Regions from separate parts of the Homo sapiens genome. Here regions 1 and 2 are each linked to region 3. The links come from fine-mapping of genetic effects on gene expression. A gene starts in region 3. Each other region holds a variant in brackets. All regions are shown on one strand. Distances are from middle to middle.

Region 1 (5,000 bases), 31 kb after region 3:
GACTTAGTGGCACGCGCCTGTAGTCCCAGCTACTTGGGAGGCTGAGGCAGGAGAATCGCTTGAATCCGGGAGGTGGAGGTTGCAGCGAGCCGAGATTGTGCCACTGCACTCCAGCCTGGCAACAGAGTGAGACTCTGTCTCAAAACAAAACAAACAAACAAACAAAAACAAAAATTAGTCAGGTGTGGTGGCACGTGCCTGTAGTCCCAGCTACTCAGGAAGCTGAGGTGGGAGAATTGCTTGAACCCGGGAGGCATAGGTTACAGTGAGCCACACTCCAGCCTGGGTGACAGAATGAGACCCTGTCTCAAAATAAATAAATTAATTAATTAATAAAATAAAATAAAAAATAAAATTTCAATTTCATTTTAATTAGGAGTCACATAATGTTTTAGAATACATGTGTTCATTAAAAAGGCTCCATCCTATGTACACTAATAAGTGACAATATAAAATATTCTGACCATAATTCTATTAATGCATCTCTTGTACAATAAAAAGAAAAAAGGATACAAATGGAGTTTCTGCTTAGATTTCTCTTTAAATGTGGAAAATCTGGCTGGGCATGGTGGCTCACGCCTGTAATCCCAGAACTTTGGGAGGCCAAGGCAGGGGGATCACTTGAAGCCAGGAGTTCGAGACCAGCCTGGGCAACATGGTGAAACCCCATCTCTACTAAAAATACAAAAAAAAATTAGCCAGGCATGGTGGCACATGCCTGTAATCCCAGGTACTCGGGTGGCTGAAGCACAACAATCACTTGAACTAGGGAGGTGGAGGTTGCAGTGAGCTGAGATTGAGTGCTACTGCACTCTAGCCTGGGTGACAGAGTGAGACCCTGTCTCGAAAAAAAAAAAAAGGGGGCGGGGCAGTGTGGGAATTTAAATCTAAAACACTTTTATCTACTTACTGTCAAGGCACACAAGGTGCCTTGTGTGAAGCAAAGGCACCTTTTCTGAATTTCAGTCATTACCTATTATAAAGAATAGGCAGCTCCTCTAGTAGTTCTTGGTTCAGATCTTCAAACACAGTCTGGGCTTTGTTGAACTCTTCCTCTGCCTAGGTGGTAAAAGAGACAAGACAATCTCCCTCAATTCTGAACCCAGTACTACAGCATGCCTCCTTCATCCTCTGCATTTTTTTAGGCACTAGGCTTTTTAGGAGCCATCCCTCTTCTTCCCCTGACCATGCCCTCCCCAGCCTCAAGACTCTGACTATCCTTACAGCATCAGTGTCAGAAGAAACAGATTTCCTTTAGGACACTGGATGCTGAATTTATAATTTCCTATACCCATGTTGGCCCAGCCACCTGCTACCACCATGGGGAGAAGGAGAACAGGAAGGGTTTACCAGTTTTTGTTGTTGTTTTTGTTTTACCTTGGCAGTCTTGGCCTCATCTTTCTTCTTGGCATTCTGCACTGCCTCCAGGTGGTGTCGGGCACTGTCATAGTCCACGAGTTTCCGACCCCGCTTGGCAATTCTCTCCTGACCCAGGGTAATGAGAAAGGGTGTGGATACTCACTTTTTAGTGGCCAGGATGTAGGTAACAGAATACCAAACAGAGAGCAAGATTCTTGCATCCTACTATCAAATTTCACTTTCGTTGTTTTTTGCTTTTGTTTTTTTTGAGACAGGGTCTTGCTCTGTTGCCCAGGCTGGAGTGCAGTTGTGCGATCTCAGCTCACTGTAACCTCTGCCTCCCAGATTCAAGCAATTTTTGTGCTTCGGCCTCCCAGGTAGCTGGAATTATAGGCATGTGCACCAAGCCCGGCTAATTTTTGCATTTTTAGTAGAGATGGGGTTTTGCCATCTTAGCCAGGCTGGTCTCGAACTCCTGGGCTCATGTGATATGCCCACCTCGGCCTCCCAAAGTGCTGGGATTACAGGCAGGAGCAACCGCACCTGGCCCAAATTTCACTTTCTAATAGGGTTTTGCGCCCATGGGGTCTCCCTCAGTATCTGGGAAGAATGGGGGAGTCTCAGAGGGAGATAGAGTCCTACAGAGCATGTGGAAATCTGTATTAATTATATATATGTAATAGATATATAATTAAATACATATATATATTTCCACCTCCACCTCCCGCTGTATTAAATTTTAATATTTCCTATGAACCCATTATAAACTGGTTCAGCCTCCAG[G/A]AGAAATGGCCTTGAGAATCACATGAAAGTGAAAGTCTGGATTTTTGGGAATTAGTCCCAAATCTGCCATTCATAGCCTGTGGCCAGTGGCAAGGCACATCTCTTTTGGAGCCTCAGTAGCCCCATCTCCCCTTATACAACTGTTATTTGAAAGAGTGAATGCTGAATACAAAGTGCTTTGAAAGCTCTAAAACACAATAAAAGCTATAAATTACTATGACCACTGAGAGAAAGTCTACTCAGCCTTATCCAAACTATAAATTATACCAGTGAGAAGCAAACTATGTCTTTGAACCGTTTCATTCTCTCAGTCACAGAATTTGAAAAGATCTTAGCAATTATCTGGTCCAATTTCCCATACAATACCATGAGGCTTCTCTATAACATCCAAGATAAGAAGTAGTTTGACTTCTGTTTGCACAAAGAACAGACAACTCACTATCTTTGAGTCTATTTCATTTCATTTTTGGAAAGCTTTAACTATTAGGAACTTAAGTCAGCCTCCTTCTAACTTCTTCCTCTGAATCAGCACGGTGCTTGACAGAGTAGGTGTTTAATAAATACTAGAGCCGGGTGCAGTGGCTCACGCCTGCAATCCCAGCACTTTGGGAGGCCGTGGGCGGATCACCTGATGTCAGGAGTTTGAGACCAGCCTGGACAACACAGAGAAACCCTGTCTCCACTAAAAATACAAAAATTAGCTGGGCTTGGTGACGCATGCCTGTAATCCCAGCTACTCGGGAGGCTGAGGCGGGAGAATCCCTAGAACCCGGGAGGCGGGGGTTGCAGTGAGCCAAGACTGCGCCATTGCACTCCACCCTGGGCAACAGAGCAAGACTCCATCTCAAAAAAAAGAAAACAAAAACAAAAACAAAAAAAAACTAGCTGAATGAATAGATGAATTCTAATTCTGCTTTCTGGAACAGAAAGCAGAACAGTTTAGAATAGGTTGAATTCCTATTTTACCTAACAGACTTTCAAATATTTGAAGATAACTATTTGATTGCTCCATGTTTCCTCTTCTATACAATAAACATCTTTAGTGCCATCAGCTGTTTCTCACAGCTAAAAGGGATGCCTCTAACTTGGATCTAATTCGAAATCAGCCCAAATATAGCTTACTGAAATCTAAGTTTATTTTATTTATTTACTTTTTTTGAGACACCAGCCTCTGTCACCCAGGCTGGCGCACAGTGGCATGATCTTGGCTCACTGCAACCTCTCCCTCCCCAGCTGAAGTGATCCTTCACCTCAGTCTCCTAGGGTGGCTGGGACTACAGACACGCACCACCACATGACTATTTTTTTTTGTATTTTTTGTAGAGATGGGATTTTGCCATGTTGCCCAGGCTGGTCCCGAACTCCTGGGCTCAAGTGATTCTCTTGCATCGGCCTCCCAAAGTACTGGGATTACAGGTGTGAGCCACTGCACCCAGCCTTGAAATCTAAGTTTAAACATAAACTTCACACTACTTCCAACCTTCTATCCTAACCTCTTGTCTAACCCTCAACCTTAATCTTTCTCCTAACTTACCCAAACTTCATTCTTAATCGTGAGTTCTAATTCTACTTATAATGCTTAACCCAATATGTTCTCTAACCTGGATGGGTCATCCACAACCCAGCCTTGATTCTGTACATTGAGTACCTTAATTTCACTGAACTGGGCAACATAGATTTCCATGGTCCTTACAGCCTGGTCAGCCAGTTTCTCCTCGTAGTCTTCCCAAAGGAGATCATTATTCTGTAGGATAGAGTCAGAGGCTGGTGAAGGCTCCACTTCCCAACAACAACTGCCTACCAGGGAAATACCCAAATTCTCCCTGCAAAAACCTTTTTTGTAGCACCGTATTTAGAATACCATGTTGGATTCTGGGGACTAGTCAGAGGAAGAAAAGAGACAGCCCCTACCCCAAGGAACTGCTCTATGGGAGTCTGAACATACATTCAGAGATTAAGAACAGGGCACAAGGTCAAAGCCTTGGACTCCAGAGCTTAGATGGGAAAGTTTAAGAGTGTATAACTGCATGAAGTTTGTTTTAAAAAACAACCAATCTTTAGGAGGTAAAACTTCCCATAATGTTTTAAAGAGGAGAAGAGGGTCAAAATTAGAGGGATCCACAGATTAGGGAAAACTTGTTTTTACCTTAACAGTTGTAGCTTCTTCCTACCACCCAGTGACTGAGGCTACACAAATGCACAGTGTGAACTGGCTCCTTTGTTTTCCTATTTTCTTGGATAGAGAAGCTAAGCTGAGGTTGAGATGCAAACAGGAGTAAGTGCCAATAAGTTGTAAAACTCAAGCCACTCTTACCCATACGATGGCCTTCAGCTCCTCATGACCGTCCCACTCGCTGCTGTAGATCTCCTGCAGGGTTTCTGACACTCTTTTTGAACTTTCATGCATCACTGAAAGGAGAGAATTCAGTCCCACCATCATGTTTCCCCAACAGTAGTTGGTGTAATCACATGGGTGACAAATCAGTGGTTCCAATTCAGAAGGACAAACTCAGAAGGTTTAGGTTATATAAGTGAGGAAAGCTGGATGGGGCTGAAAGGAAAAGTCACTCTTCCTCAGCCCACAAAATTCCAGGAGTCAAGAGTAGTCAAATGATAAAATGACAAAAACCTGGGGGTATGGCTATTGTTTTCCACCCCAAACCTCCTAGTAGCTGTATAAATGCCCTCTGGATTCTCCCATGCTGCATTGCCCACCTTTGACTGCACTAAGGAAGTTCTTCAGGTCCTTGTACAGCTTGTGGCCTTCTGCCTGAAAGAGAAAAGTACATTTGGTGACTAAAGAGATTAATATTTCAAAAGATGCTCCAGAGGTCAAAGTCAAAAAGTAGGTTAAGAGC
Region 2 (5,000 bases), 43 kb after region 3:
AAAGATATAAAATAACATTGTTGTAGTTTAGGAAGATGTAAAATCATAATCGTTTTGTTTATATTGTTTTCTTTTCCTTTTTTTTGAGATAGGGTCTCACTTTGTCACCCAGACTGGAGTGCAGTGGCACAAACAAAGCTCACTGTAGCCTCGACCTGAGACTCAGTCAGTCCTCTTGCCTCAGCCTCTCAAGTAGCTGAGAATACAGGAGCACACCACCATGACCAGCTAATTTTTGTATTTTTTGTAGAGATGGGGTTTTGCCATGTTGCCCAGGCTGGTCGCAAACTTCTGAGCTCAGCACTTTGGGCTGCCAAAGTGCTGGGATTATAGGTGTGGGCCACCATGTTGGGCCTATTATTAATTTTTAAATTCATTTCTTTCTTTTTTCTTTATGTAGGGGCTTTTTTTTTTTTCTTTTGAGACAGGGTCTTGCTCTGTTGCTTAGGCTGGAGTGCAGTGGCACAATCACAGCTCACTGCTCAGTAGCTGGGACCACAGACGTGCACCACCATGCCCAGCTAATTTTTCTTATTTTTTGTAGAGTTAAGGTCTCCTGTGTTGCCGGGTTTGTCTCAAACTCCTAGTCTTAGCAACCCTCCCACCTCGGCCTCCCACTGGGAGGTGTGAGCCACTGTACCCAACCATGTACTTTCTGATTTGTTGTAATGAGTACATATTTTATTTATACTTTATTCATTTTTGAGACCAGGTCTTGCTCTGCTGCCTAGGCTGGCATGCACTGGTATGATCATAGCTCACTGCAGCCTGGAATTCCTGGGGTCAAGCAATCCTCCTACCTCAGCCTCCCAGGTAGCTGGGACTACAAGCATGTGCTACCACACCTGGCTAATTTTTGTATTTTTTTGTAGAGACGGGATCTTGCTATGTTGCCCAGGCTGGTCTTGAATTCCTAGGCTCAATTGATTCTCCTGCTTTGGCCTCTCAAAGTGCTAGTATTACAGCCATAAGCCACCATGCCTGGCCAAGTAAATGTTGTATAGAAAAATATTTTGAGGTGTGATAATGGTATTGTAGTTACATTTTAAAAGAGTTCTATTTTTAGAGATTGATAATGAATTTTTTTTTTCTTTTTGAGACAGAGTATCACTCTGTCACCCAGGCTGGAGTGCAGTGGTGCGATCTTGGCTCACTGCAACTTCCGCCTCCCAGGTTCAAGCAATTCTCCTGCTTCAGCCTCCCGAATAGCTGGGATTACAGGCATGTCCTATCACGCCCAGCTAATTTTTGTATTTTTAGTAGAGATGGGGTTTTACCATGTTGGCCAGGCTGGTCTCGAACTCCTGACCTCAGGTGATCTGCCCGCCTCGGCCTCCCAAAGTGCTGGGATTATAGGCGTGAGCCACTGCACCCGGCCTGATAATGAAATTTTTATAGATGTGTCAATGTTGTTGGAATCAAAATGGAGTCACTAGTGTTAAAAAAAAATCTCTGATAATAGAGCCAGGGAAGGCTATGAAAAGAGCATTCTCATGCTTATTTGCCTGATAAGAATTATCACAAAAGATCCTATGAAAACCACAACCTTGCACAAAGGCCATCACAACCTTATACAAAAAATATTTCTGCAAGGACTTCTGCCCAGCAACTGCCTGTTCAACCTTGGACTGGTGTCACCCTTATTATTGATCTTTGTAGCCAATGATAATTATTTTCAAAGAATCATGTAATCCTTCTCATTTTTTCCTTTGAAAACATGTGTCTTCCTTTACCTCCCTGAATACCTCATAGTTTACTATGGTACACATATTCCCATTGCAATGCTCTATTCCCGCATAAATATCTTTTTCTCTTAGACAGCCTCCCTCTGTTCGTTACTTAGGTTGCCGAATGAAATGATATATCTAGAATTTGTTTCATAATAATCAAGGATAGGAGAAAGTGAGTGGGGACACAGTGAAACATGATTGCCCATGAGTGGATAAATTATGGAAGCTGAGTGATGAGTACATGTGAATTCATTTTACAAGTTTATCTGCCTTTGTACATATTTGAAATATTCCATTAAAAAAAAGTTCATCAGATCTAAGATGGTAAACCAATAACAACAACAAAAAGTTCAAAAGTAAGATTCCCAGGCCCTACTCCCAGAGAACTTGCATTTAAAAATATTTCCCAAATGATTCTGATATACACTCAGCTACTGAATTAGATGATAGCTAATAACCCATTAATATAATTTTAAAAATTATTTTCTATATAATTCAACTGATATTTATATAGTAAAGAATTTGTGGGCCAGGTGCAGTGGCTCATGCCTGTAATCCCAGCACTTCGGGAGGCCAAGGTGGGTGGATCATCTGAGGTCAGGAGTTTGAGACCAGCCTGGCCAACATGGTGAAACCCTGTCTGTACTAAAAATAAAAAGAAAAAATTAGCATAGCATGGTGGCACACACCTGTAATCTCAGCTACTCGGGAGGCTGAGGCAGGAGAATTGCCTGAACCTGGAAGGTTGAGGTTGCAGTGAGAGGAAGGAAGGAAGGAAGGAAGGAAGGAAGGAAGGAAGGCAG[G/GC]AAGGCAGGCAGGCAGGCAGGCAGGGAGGGAGGGAGGGAAGGAGGGAGGGAGATTTCTCTGTTCCCAAAATGACAGTCAGCAGCAAGAAAAAAGGTAAATTCCTTTATTTTTATTTTTACTTTTTTTTTGAGATGGAGTTTCACTCTTGTCACCCAGGCTAGAGTACAATGGCAAGATCTCTGTTCACTGCAACCTCTGCCTCCCAGGTTCAAGTGATTCTCCTGCCTCAGCCTGCCGAGTAGCTGGGATTACAGGTGCACACTACCATGCCCAGCTAATTTTTTTGTATTTTTAGTACAGACGGGGTTTCATCATGTTGGCCAGGATGGTCTCAAACTCCTGACCTCAGGTGATCCGCCCGCCTCGCCCTCCCAAAGTGTTGGGATTATAGGGGTGATCCACTGCGCCTGGCTGGTAAATTCCTTTAGTTCACCGAGGAAGGATAAGCAACAGGTCACCCTGTAGCCCTTAACCCTAGGGGGAGGGTGGCTTGGTGGAGATGTTTGCCAGTTTGCAGAACTTATTGTTCTTCTGCCACTCAGCCCTCGTGTCTCCTTTCTTCTTCCAAGCTTCCCTCCCCTACCCTCCAGATTACCTGTTGTTGGTAGAAGTTGCTAGCGCTTTGTTCAAATCGTTCATCTTTGGTTTCTACAGCTTTCCCCAATTTCTGCAGCACCTAGGGATATAAGTCAGAAAGGCCCGTAAGGTTATAGTCAAGTCTCTCTTACATGTTGGCCTCATATGACCCTGGCTTCAGTCAAGAATCTCACTTACAACTCAAGGGCTGTACTTATTTATTTATTTATTTATTTATTTATTTATTTATTTATTTATTTTTGAGACGGAGTCTCACTCTGTTGCCCAGGCTGGAGTGCAGTGGCACGATCTCGGCTCACTGCAACCTTCGCCTCCCAGGTTCAAGCAATTCTCCTGCCTCAGCCTCCTGAGTAGCTGGGATTACAGGCGTGTACCACCACGCCCAGCTAATTTTTGTATTTTTAGTAGAGACGGGGTTTCACCATGTTGGCCAGGCTGATCTCGAACTCCTGACCACAAATGATCCACCCGCCTTGGCCTCGCAAAGTGCTGGGATTACAGGCGTGAGCCAACATGCCTGGCCTTGAAGGGCTGTACTCTTACTGGACCAAAAGAATTAGGAATACAACAAACTGCTGAAAAAACAATCCTGTTCTGTAGTTCTTTTCAAATTAGGGGTAGCTCTAGGGGATACGTAGTAGTGAGCTAGAGGATATATATTAATATAAAGCTCAGAAGAAATAAGGTATATCTGGCTGGGTGTGGTGGCTCACACTTGTAATCCCAGCACTTTGGGAGGCCAAGGCAGGTGGATCACCTTAAGTCGGGAGTTCGAGGCCAGGCTGACCAGCATGGATAAACCCCATCTCTACTAAAAATACAAAATTAGCTGGGCATGGTGGTGCATGCCTGTAATCCCAGCTACTGGGGAGGCTGAGGCAGGAGAATCGCTTGAACCCAGCAGGCAGAGGTTGCAGTGAGGCAAGATCGCACCATTGTACTCCAGCCTGGACAACAAGAGCGAAACTCTGTCTCAAAAAAAAAAAAAGAAAGAAATAAGGTATATCTTTCTGAATGTCATTGTTATTATTGTCATTATTTTATTTGAGACAGGGTCTTGCTCTGTTGCCCTGGCTGTAGTACAGTGGTGCAATCACAACTTACTACAGCCTCAACCTCTCTGGGCTCAAGCAATCCTCCCACCTCAGCCTCCCCAGTAGCTGGGACCACATGCTCACACCACCACACCTCACTAATTTTTAAAAATTTTCTGTAGAGACAGGGTCTCACTATGTTGCTCAGGCTGGCTGAACTCCTGGGCTCAAGTGATCCTGTTGCCTCAGCCTCCCAGAGTTCTGCAATTATAGGCATGAGCCATTAGGCTGGCTGGCATTGTTATTATTATTATTATTTTTTTTTTTTTGAGACGGAGTCTCGCTCTGTCGCCCAGGCTGGAGTGCAGTGGCACTATCTCGGCTCACTGCAAGCTCCGCCTCCCGGGTTCACGCCATTCTCCTGCCTCAGCCTCCCGATTAGCTTCGGACTACAGGCGCCCGCCACTATGCCTGACTAAGTTTTTTTGTATTTTTAGTAGAAACGGGGTTTCACCTTGTTAGCCAAGATAATCTCTATCTCCTGACCTCGTGATCCGCCCGCCTCGGCCTCCCAAAGTGCTGGGATTACAGGCGTGAGCCACTGCGCCCGGCCTGTTATTAATATTTAAAGTGGGTTTTTGAGAAGGAAGGAGAAAAGCATTATATTAAAACAAGTATTGTTGAGAAAACTGTAAACTGTGCATGGCTTTTAAGTAAAATGTGAGCCCTGAAGACATTTTTTACTTGAGAGACTGTTTTCAGCTATAGCCATAGGTTCCTCTAGATAGATGAGGTTAGAGAGGTTGGGCAGGGACACTTCTCTCATGGGGGCTTT
Region 3 (5,331 bases):
AAGACAGGGTCTTGCTCTGTCACCTAGGCCGGAGTGCAGTGGCATGATCTCGGCTCATTGCAACCTCCATCTCCTGGGCTCAAGGGATCCTCCCACCTAAGCCTTTGGAGTAGCTGGAACCACAGGTGTCTACCACCAAGCCCGGCTAATTTTTAAATTTTTTTGTAGAGATGGGGTTTCGCCATGTTGCCCAGGCTGATCTCGAACTCCTGAGCTCAGTCTGCCTGCCTCAACCTCCCAGAGTGCTGGAATTACAGGCGTGAGCCACCATACCTGGCCATTTCTCTCTTTTATCTCTTCTCACCAGACAACTAAAAGTCTGAATTGTGTGCATTACCAGTCACAGAGGACACTGTCTTAGACTTCCACTGGTGGTGTCACTCACCTGTTTCCACATCAGTAAAAGCAGAGAATGCCTGTCCTAATGACAAATGTGACTGTGTATAGGAAGACAAAGGTGTATAGACCAACCAAGGGTTTGTTCCTCTCTCTCCCTAACTAGCACATGCTGAAAACAGTCAATAAATAACTGATAGTTTGTCCGGCCCAGCCTGATGATGAACTAAAAGGTGGGCATCCATTCTCAGAGTGCTGAGCAGTAGTGCCCGGCCTCCGCACACCTTCAGGGAACAATGGGGTTTTGATGCTGGGTCTGTATCACCAGAGGAGTGGAATGAGAAAGCCAGCAAAATCACTTTCAAGGGAAAGATGGGTTTCTAACAAGTACTCAGTGCTAATAACCAACGTGACTGAGTGCTTACGAGATACTACACACTCTTCTAGGTGTTTTATATGGGTTGTCTCATTTAATCTTCATAAATCATAAGATAGGTACTATTTTCCCTATTTTGTGAATGATGAAACCGGAGCTTAGAGGTTAGCAATACTATCTTTAGCAGGTTTTTAAAAAATGATTTCCCTGTTATCTTTGAAGATTCCTTTTCCACATTTAATTACAAGGGTTTCTGCTACATTCTTTGCCATAGCTATAAATTATTAGACAGATGAATGTAAAGCCCTTCCTTTAGGCTTATACAATAATCTTCCTTCCTTCCTTCCTTCCTTCCTTTCCTTTCCTCCCTCCCTTCCTATTTTTTGAGACCGGTCTCACTTTGTTGCCCAGGCTGGAGTGCAATGGCACGATCTCGGCTCACCTGTGCTTCCCAGGTTCAAGCGATTCCCATGCCTCAGCCTCCTGAGTAGTTGGGATTACAGGCGTGCACCACCACGCCTGGCTAATTTTTTTGTATTTTTAGTAGAGATGGAGTTTCACCATGTTGGCCAGGCTGGTCTCAAACTCCTGACCTCAGATGATCCGCCCACCTCGACCTCCCAAACTGCTGGCATTACAAGCATGAGCCACCACGCCCGGCCTCTTTCTTTCTTTTGAATTAGCAATGGGGTCTCACTATGTTCCCCAGGCAGGTCTCAAACACCTAGCCTCAAGAGATCCTCCTGTCTCAGTCTCCCAAAGTCCTGGGATTACCGACATAAAATTATTTGATAAACCGAGGTTACAAAGATTTGTGAAGTCACCATGTCCATGTGACTTCAGATTAAAACCGTACTAAGGGGCACACTCTAGTTCCTGCTTCCTCCCAGGCCCTTCCTGTGTGAGGCAGGCAGAGAGAGGTGGGAGTCTTCCCACCTGGGCTGAGGCTTCCAGGACTGGTCTGGGGAAGGGGATGTTGAACAATTCTTTCTCACTGGGATTAGGAAAGGCCTTCACCTACCTCTTGGAGAAGGAGTAGTCAGGAGGCTGGTCATTGTCACTAGTGGTTGAGTTTCTTGGAGAAGAGGCAGATCTGTAGGAAGAGGGGCAAAGACAGGAATGTAGCGGGTGGGCCCCTATGGCTTTGAGTCCTGGAAGTCCCAGGAAAGCCTCTGGTGCCAGGTTCTCCCAAGTCCCTTCCCCTTTTTCTCTTGTCCTCTTCTGGTTTCCCTGAATATCTCCTCAGGCTCCAGGTACCAACAGCTCTCCACAGGAGCAGGTCTGAGGCCGCATGCAGTTTGACGGGGTGTTACCTTCATACGCTCTCTCCAGGTCCTTTCAATGGGCCACCAAATTTACTTAGATCTCTCAAGGCCTGAGAAAGTCAGGCAAAGGTTCGCAAATCAGCAGCGAACCCAGTTTCGCCAAAGCGCGGTAACAGGTACCCTAGGGTTCCACAGCTAGGAGTTCTGGTGACGCCATCCACCAGGTGTCAGGAGAGGGCCGGGAAGGTCAGGACCCGCGCCCAGGCTCCAGAGCGGAGTGGGCGCAGCGCAGTAGCCGGGCCGGGACCGGGAGGCGACGGCCGTGGGCCGCCTTCTGGCTCGCCTCGGACGCTGGGACGCCGGACTGGCCGCCCCCTCCGGGCCTGCTTTCGCCGTCCAGGGCGCGGTCCGCGCACAGCCTGCCAAGCCTCACTGGGCCCCAGCCCGCGCCCCGCGCCCCGGAGATCCTCGACGCCCCTGCGAACGCGGGGTGGACGCGACGGGCTGGGTTGGTCCTCGCCCCGCGGCCCCGCCCCCGTCCCCGCCCCCGCCCCGAGCCCCCCGCGTTACCAGCACCCCGCGGAGCGCGCTGCGCTGGGGGCGGCCGGTGCGTCGGGGAGCGGCGTTCCCAGCCGCCGCGACCCTCTGCCCCAGCGGAGCGCTGAGCTTCGGCCGCTCCGGGTTTCGGTTCCTGCCACGGCCGAGGTGGCTGCGGCGAATGTGGGCGACCCGGCTCTCCGGCGCCCCCGCCCTTCCCTCGTGCTCACCTTTCCAGTCGGACGGGCTGCTGGTGAAGGGCCGGCGCCGCTCCGCGCGTCCTTTTGAACTCAACGGGGGCGGGCACCGCGGAGTCGCGGAGGCCAGCAGAGGCCGAACGAGGACCCCGAGCGGAGGAAGCCGCGGGTGGCGCGCGGGGTTGGCGCAGAGGCCGGAGGGGGTGGGGGGCAGGCCGACGGGGTGGGACAGGAAAAGCGGAGAGAAACCGCCCTCTGCAGGTCCCCTTGGCTCCCCCGGGAGGAAAGGCAGCCTGCCCTTCTCCGATTGTCACTTTACTCTCCATCCGGAGCCGCTTCCTTTCTCGCCGCGAGGCTCGGGGTTGGGGGGGGACCAGATTGGAGCCGCGGGCTAACTGGGATCCGTCCCATTTCCCTGGGCTTGACGTTCTCTGAATTTTTAGCTAATGTGGAAAGTTACATTTATTTGCATTTGTTTATCGCTTGCTCACATAGGTCTGTGTCCTGAAGCTTGGCAGATGAGCGAACTTAGCCAGCACACCCCCGGCCGTGAAGCAGGGAGGTGAAGCGGGGAGAGCAACGAGCCCCACCCGGGTCTTGCCAGCTGGACGTTCTTGTGGGGCAGCGTTGAGCAGCGGTTAGGAGTGCCGTGGACTTTGGATTCAAACAGCCCCAGCTCTTCTGCTTGCTAGCTGGGTGACTTTGGGCAAATTAACATCTCGAAAATCTGTTTCCTCATTCCTAAAATGCGGGTCTGAAAGTGATCATGCCTGTAAAGCCATCTCATATCCATGGTTCTAGAAGCATGGTGAGCACCTCAATTTGAATAATCAGTGCCATGCTTTAGCTACCTCTTGACTCACTCGTTTGTGGCAGGAAATGTTCCCAAATTAATCAGAAGAATTCAGTGACTAAGAGGATGTAATAGTATATAGCGCAGGCACTGGAATCAGCTCTGCTGTGTGATCTTGGACAAGCTGCTTCTGTTCCGTTTCTCTTATCTGGGGCAATACCTGTCTGAATAGAGTGACTGTTGGGACGAAATAGGTTAGTAAATATGTACTGTAAGGCATTAGAACCTTGCCTGGCACATAGTAAGTGCTCAATAAACGCTAGGTCTTGTTACCTTGGCTTCCCGTTTAGGATTGGAACCCTTGTGATTATTCTTTCCCTCCCAGTGATAGACTTCTGTGCTTACTTCGCACTCCTAGGCGTTCTGTAGGTTTGTAAACCAGTATTTATACAGAAATACTTTCTGTAGAAAGACAGGCATCATCAGATTGTGCATGTTAATCCGGGAACAGACCGAAAGGGAAGGTCTCAGAGGAGAGAGGCATAAAGGGAGAAAACAAAACAAAGTCACAAGCAAAGCAAGAGTAGTTGCTTTTATTCCTAAAGTGTTCATTATAAAAGAAACCAGAGGGCAGGGCACTGTGGCTCCCAGCACTTTGGGAGGCGGGTGGATCACTTGAGGTCAGTAGTTTGAGACCAGTCTGGCCAACAAGGTGAAACCCTGTCTCTACTAAAAATACAAAATCCGCTGGGCGTGGTGGCACACACCTGTAATCCCTGCTACTCTGGAGGCTGAGGCACGAGAATTGCTTGAACCTGGGAGGCAGAGGTTGCAGTGAGGCGAGATCACACCATTGCACTCCAGCCTGGGCAACAACAGCAAAACTCCGTCTCAAAAGAAAAAAACAAACACAAATACAGGAGGAAAACAAACAATAAAAAAGTGATGAAATTCATTTTATATAAATATATTGTGAGAAATATATGTAAATATGTGCATGGGAAAATGCCAATCCAACCAAGAAAGGCAAAGAAAGTGATATGCCAGCTATGCATATGTAACTTAATAAAAGAAAGGTGAGCCTGGCTTGTCCTTAGATAAGAGAATATCCAAGAGAAAAGGAAATTAAAATCCTAGAGGGCTAAATCCAAAGGAGGACAATTGCTGGCATTGACATACTTCTAGCTGTCCACCTTGATCATGAATTCCAGGAGAAGTTCAGATCGTTCTTGGACCTGGGTCTGTCTCTTTCACATTTTCTATTATGTGTTGAAGATTGTTTAGAACTATAGACTCAGCCAGGCGCGGTGGCTCACACTTGTAATCCCAGCACTTTGGGAGGCCGAGGCGGGTGGATCACAAGGTCAGGAGTTCAAGACCAGCCTGGCCAACACAGTGAAACCCTGTCTCTACTAAAAATATAAAAATTAGCTGGACGTGGTGGCAGGCGCCTGTAATCCGAGCTAATGGGGAGGCTGAGGCAGGAGAATCGCTTGAACCCGGGAGGCGGAGGTTGCAGTGAGCCGAGATTGTGCCACTGCACTCCAGCCTGGGCGACAAAAAAAAAAGAAAAAAAGAACTACAGACTCAGAGGCTATCTGGCTCAACTGACTGACTCTACTGATTTGCTGTCACTTTCACAATTTCGACAGTTGTTAGTAATGTTCTTTCAATAAGCATCTTTTTTTTCTCTTTAAAATGTAACTGGTGGGGCGCAGTGGCTCACGCCTGTAATCTCAGCACTTTGGGAGGCCAAGGCAGGCAGATCACCTGAGGTCAGGAGTTCGAGATCAGCCTGGCCAACATGGCGAAACCACGTCTCTACTA

Evidence for each region. PIP is the estimated chance that this variant, and not a neighbour inherited with it, causes the effect.
Region 1: its variant is the best candidate, but not a certain one, in a credible set for the expression of SMAGP in whole blood (INTERVAL, PIP 0.86).
Region 2: its variant is the best candidate, but not a certain one, in a credible set for the expression of SMAGP in whole blood (INTERVAL, PIP 0.61).

Annotation. Positions count from the first base shown.
Region 1 is chr12:51,298,230-51,303,229 of GRCh38, forward strand. It overlaps BIN2 (bridging integrator 2), which reads right to left. Exons shown (of 13, transcript NM_016293.4): 3 at 4,858-4,912; 4 at 4,457-4,551; 5 at 3,791-3,886; 6 at 1,378-1,485; 7 at 974-1,059. Among named protein-coding and RNA genes, the nearest start is that of BIN2, 23 kb to the right of the region's middle. The variant G/A (reference allele first, on the strand shown) is at 2,143.
Region 2 is chr12:51,310,694-51,315,693 of GRCh38, forward strand. BIN2 (bridging integrator 2) reads right to left here. Exons shown (of 13, transcript NM_016293.4): 2 at 3,130-3,210. Among named protein-coding and RNA genes, the nearest start is that of BIN2, 11 kb to the right of the region's middle. The variant G/GC (reference allele first, on the strand shown) is at 2,534.
Region 3 is chr12:51,267,512-51,272,842 of GRCh38, forward strand. It overlaps SMAGP (small cell adhesion glycoprotein), which reads right to left and starts at 2,904. Exons shown (of 4, transcript NM_001031628.2): 1 at 2,745-2,904; 2 at 1,734-1,805. The coding sequence starts at 1,767. RefSeq lists silencers at 2,173-2,842, 2,883-2,962 and an enhancer at 2,578-3,078.